2 separate regions of the Homo sapiens genome follow, and region 1 is linked to region 2. Evidence: fine-mapped expression QTL. Tissue or cell type: whole blood. Region 2 holds a variant in brackets; the other region holds the start of a gene. All regions are shown on one strand. Distances are between the middles of the regions.

What was found. PIP is the estimated chance that this variant, and not a neighbour inherited with it, causes the effect.
Region 1: CTSE starts here. The variant in region 2 is fine-mapped to the expression of CTSE in whole blood (TOPMed, PIP above 0.99).

The regions. Positions count from the first base shown.
Region 1 is chr1:206,022,908-206,025,522 of GRCh38, forward strand. CTSE (cathepsin E) reads right to left here and starts at 988. Exons shown (of 9, transcript NM_001910.4): 1 at 817-988; 2 at 1-150. The coding sequence starts at 884.
Region 2 is chr1:206,059,684-206,062,439 of GRCh38, forward strand. All of the region lies in intron 1 of RHEX (regulator of hemoglobinization and erythroid cell expansion), which reads left to right. All of the region lies in intron 2 of LOC105372857 (a long non-coding RNA gene), which reads right to left. Among named protein-coding and RNA genes, the nearest start is that of RHEX, 7.9 kb to the left of the region's middle. The variant T/C (reference allele first, on the strand shown) is at 1,299.

The sequences.
Region 1 (2,615 bases), 37 kb before region 2:
TAGTTGATGAGGGGTTCCTTGGCACTCTGGTCCATTGAGCAGGACTCGGTGAACTGGATCATGTCCAAATTATGGGATTTCCAGAACTCAGAGAGCTGGCTCCGTGCCCGCAGCTTCTTCTTGAGGGACGGATGCCTCCTGAGGGGCACCCTGGAGACAAACCCCCATGTAAGCAGGAGATGTACTTCTGCCTCCCTCTTCCCCCCATTCTCGTCCCATTTTCTCAGGGGCCAACTAGAGAAGATGGGGTGGGAGGGGGGGATCTGCAAGACAGCACGCAGGATACAGGTGGGATCAGCGTCCTCTCTGCCACTCAGCCTGCCCGGCCTCATCTCTGCCCTATAGAGTCTTAGAATCTTAGAGTGGAAATGGCTCCCCTCCTGGAGCTGAGGTCTTTGAGATCTAGGAAAATGGGAGATGTGGGGCGGTCTACAGTTTTACATGAACATCACGAAGGGCTGATTTAAAGGGACAGAAAAACTCTTGGGGACAGTGATGGTCAGTCCCCTGGGGAAGTCCTGGGGCGCTTTGAGCTACAAACCACAACTGCAGGTTCCTGCTCTTTTGCAACACAAGAAGACCCCTGGGACTTGGGAAGGCACCTCCGTGGAGGTGGAGGCAGGAGGATGACTTGTTGAGGACTGGAGATTAAGGCCATACACAGGCGGTCACTGGATGAGTCTCTTCCATGCATTGACGCAAGCCCTCAGCTTCTCCTCCTCTTCACCTCCCCATCAGCTTTCCTACCCCAGAGCAGCCCTGAGTTGCAGGGCATGGGACTACCCAGCTGAACACAGTGCGGGGACGTCTTCTCACCTGTGAAGGGATCCTTGGGCCTCTCCCAGCTCCAGGAGCACCAGCAGCAAAAGAAGGAGCGTTTTCATTGTGAGTCCGACCAGCAGCTTCTCCCTTGCCCCCTCCTTTCTTCTCTCCCCGAGGGCAGTGGGAACGGACTTTCCCTAACTCTCAGACCTGCCCAGCCCAGTCTGAGGGCCGAATGATAAGGCCCTGGAGTCATTAGCCATGCCCAGAGTAAATACGGCATGTGGAACAGGGCGTTCCCCCTGCACCTCTCCGTCCCTTTCCCACCTACAAGAGGAATATGAGTCTGCGGGGAGAACTTGGGAGTCCTCTGGGGCTTGGCTTCTCTCAGGGCTTTGGCACCTCCTCTGACCCCAAGAAACCCTGTTAATGAATCCGGAGGGCAGCACATGCCTGGCTGCCTGGAAAGGCCCACTGAACTCTTACTGCAAGTGCTCTAGCTGGAGACTCTGGAGGGGTGGGAGCTGACTTGTCATGGGTGGCAGGATTCTAACTCAAAATATTCGTCAGTCTGTTTTCTGGGTGATTCCTGTTCTCTCCTCAATCTCTCAAATGCTCCAAAGGCAGTTTATCCTTCCCTGGCCCACTTTGAAGCACAAACCAGCACTCCTCAAAGGCCCTGAAATGGGAAAATGTAGCTGCAGATTTATGGAGCCCACTCTCCTGACTCTAAGGACTTGATGAATCTGGGGCTGGGGCTCAGGGGTGTGTGGAGGAGAATGCAGGGGCAGCGAGGGAGGGTCAAGGGGGTCAGCGTCTACAGCAAGTGCCCGCATGAGTCTACTAAAGCGGCCATGACAAAGTACAGGGGGCTTAAACAACAGAAATTTATTTTCTCACTATTCTGGAGGCTGGAAGTCCAAGATCAAGGTGTTGGCAGACTTGGTTGCTTCGGAGGCCTCTCTCCTTGGCTTGCAGATGGCTGCCTTCTCTCTGTGTCTTCACATGGGTCTTCCCTCAGCGTGTGGCTGTGTCCACATCCACATTTCCTCTTCTTATAAGGACGCTAGTCATATTGGAGTAGGGCCCACCCTAATGACTGCGTTTACCCTTAATACCTCTTTAAAGACCCTATCTCCAAATACAGTCACGTTCTGAGGTACTAGGTGTTAGGACATCAACATGGATTTTGGAGGACAAAGTTCAGCCCTTAACAGTGCTCAGGGACAATAGGATCTTCTATCTGTCAAGTGGGACTAAGCGCAGGGGTGGAGAGTGGGTGGGGCTCAGGCCTTAGTTACCGCAGTGTGTGAAACCCCCTCACCATCAGCCTATCTCTGTGGCCACCCGCCTCATAAACAGATGGTGGGGCTTCAGTGCCTGGGGTGGGGATGAAGGGGTTACAGGTAGGAAGACCCTGACCCTGACTCAAGTTAGCCAGGGCAGCAGAGGCCACCACCATATGCCAATGCTTCCAGAGGGCACTAGCTCAGCAGTAGGAAGTAGATGGCCTGCGTTTAGGTTTAGCTCTGCCCTGACCAGCTAGTGTTCTGGAAAATCTCTTAAGTGCTATGGGATCTGCCTTTCATCTCTGAAGTTCAAATGGCAAGCAAACGTGGAGTATGGAGCTAAGCCAAACCCACCCTTGGGTCCAAAAATGTTAAAAAAAGACATCAAAAAGACTTAAGGAACAGCCTAGACCTTTGACCCCTGAACCCAAGGCAACAAAGCCTCTTTGGCATTTCCCAGGAGCCCGTCTTGTTGATCTTTCACTGGGGAGAGTGGTCTAAACCTAGAAGGGCAGCTTGAGTCAGAAGTGGCTAGAAGTGGAGATCATTCATTTTGGCAGTAAA
Region 2 (2,756 bases):
AGTGCCTTCCCCTGAGATTCCTCACCTATACAATGGGAGGGTTTAAGATTCCTTTTAGCTCTGAGAATCTATGGACAGAATGTGGCTGGAGAGGGGATGGACTTTGTGTCTCCATCCCTCGAGGCAGGAGAAATTCTTTCCTGGTGTGAATAATTCTCCCCTTCCCCACCAGAGCATGGGCAGGCTCCCACGCCTGCCACCTCTTCCTAGCCGTAGCTCTACTGGCCTTGCTTATGTCCTGATCCTGTCAACCCCTCTCACATGCCCTCCCCCAGGTACCTAGCACTGCACATCCTGGTTATCTCTTTTTCTGGACCTCCTGTCATATCTGCTAACCCTTGGTAAGAATGGTAGAGCTCTGGAGTGAAACAATCACATGGAGGCAGCAGAATATACTGTGTATGAACACACGACTTAAAGTCAGAGAGATGGAGGTTTATGTCCAAACTCTGCCACTTACCAGCCCTATGACCCTGAGCAAGTGTGATCCTCAAGAACTGTTTTTCTTTACTGTATAATAGGAATAATGATTGTTCCTATCTCAGGTCTATATATGAAGATTAAACAAGATAATGAATGTGCCCAATATATACTAAGTTCACAATAAACAGTAGCTAATATTACCATTTAGGATTCTGTAGAGCTCATTTGCATAGGTGTGCAAGAATTACCTTCCTATCTCCTTCGTATTACTTTCCTCTCCTTCCCCTTATGCAGAGAACATCACCACCCTGAAGCCAGAGACTAACACTGCAGGACTCAGCAGGTGGGTGAGAGAAGGGCTGGATCCATGAAGGAGGAAGGTGGGCTCCTGGGGAAGGATCTGTGGGGATTGGTGTGAGTGGGGGCCATGGTGATGGAGGCTAGAGCTGAAAAGAGGGGCTAAAATGGAGGCAGGAGATGGTTGGCCACTAAGGAGGTGAAGCCTGGAAGTGGGAGAGCTTCTACATGGGTGAGGAGGCCCCAGGGCACTTTTGTGGAGGGTCACCAAAGCCAGCCAGAGCAGCTGGATGGTCCTCATGTCTCTTAGTTGCTTCCTTCAGCCTAAGCACAGCAGCCACAGCCCTTTCTGGCTCCATTGCTGTGGTGTCCCTCATCTTGCTCCTGGTGGGTCTCTTGTCCATGACCCTGAAGAAATGGAGGCAAGAGAGTGAGTTGAACAAGCTGGCCCTGGAACTGGGAATGAAGAGAGGAGAAACTGGGGGCAGAGATTGGGGTGTTTTTCCTATGGGGCAGTCTTGTCGGGGAGGGGAGCGGGTAGTGGGAGGGTAATATGAAGGAGATATGAAGATAAGACC[T/C]CTTCTCTAGACTTGCTGGGGACTCTGTACACAGCAATAAGAATTACTCATCACACAAGTTCTTCATGCTGAAAGCTATATATAGTATAAGCCATCTGCATATATGCTTATGGCCTATATGCCTCAGCTAAAAGAAATACTGATGCCAAATAATCTCTTCTAAATAATAAACAAAATTATAAATTATAAAGCGTACTCATTTCCCCTGTGTCTTCCTGGGAATTTAACTTAGTCTCAGAGGCCCAATGGGCTGAGTGTGGTGGATTTTGCATTTCAAAGTTAAGCCCTAAACCCAGCAAACAACCAAGTAAAGATGGTTATTAACCCAACTCAGACTGACTCTGAGTTTATCCATTTTTCTAGGACTATTTAAGAAACAACTGAGGCATCAGACCAACTTTCCCCACAAGTCCTCGGTAAGGAACTAGTCCAGTCGCATGTAGAGAGGGGGATCCTGGCCTTCTGGCTGCTTCCTTACCTAGACCCCACACAGAGGGTGGTGGGAGGAGGCGGGGGGCAGATCTGGAGGAAATGCCTATGAAAACTGAGATCTAGGGCTTGTGCAGCAAGAACTCAGCATTCTACTTGCTGTCCTGTAGGGACAGCCCAATGCCTTGTTTTGTCTTTGGAAGTCCCTGGTGCCCAGCCATCTGCCTCTAACCAGGGTTCTATCTCTAAAGGATCTTTCCTGCCATGCTGATGCCATATATTCCAACGTGATCAACCTGGCTCCCCAGAAGGAGGACGACTTTGCTGTCTACACCAACATGCCCCCTTTTCATCACCCCAGGAGGACATTGCCAGACCAAGTGGAATATGTCTCCATTGTATTCCACTGATGGGAAGCTAATGAGATGCTCAGAGTGGGGGTCAGACCTGGCCCCAGCTGAATCTTGGCATACCCTTTGCTTTAGATTTATGTGTGTGTTTAAAAAAAAAAAAATACATAGGCCAGGCACGGTGGCTCACACCTGTATCCCAGCACTTTGGGAGGCTGAGGCAGGCAGATCACCAGGTCAAGAGATCAAGACCATCCTGGCCAACATGGTGAAACCCCGTCTCTACTAAAGATACAAAAATTAGCCAGGTGTGGTGGTGCATGCCTGTAATCCCAGCTACTTGGAAGGCTGAGGCAGGAGAATCACTTGAACCCAGGGGGCGGAAGTTGCAGTGAGCCAAGATCACACCGCTGCACTCCAGCCTGGCAACAGAGTGAGACTCCATCTCTAAAAAAAGTAAATAAATAAAAATAAAACGTAAAACATATTCTGATGGAGGTGGATGGCTAGACATTTCTTCTGATTTATTAGAATCAAAGTACTGTTCTAATAGAAAGGAGTGACATACAAGAAACACAGGACATGCTCGTCCAGATCACCCCCAGCCCCAGAGGCAGGCTCCTGAGACAGCCTGGCCAACAAGGAAGCCCTCTGAGCTCCTGCCCCTCCTGAGGCAAAA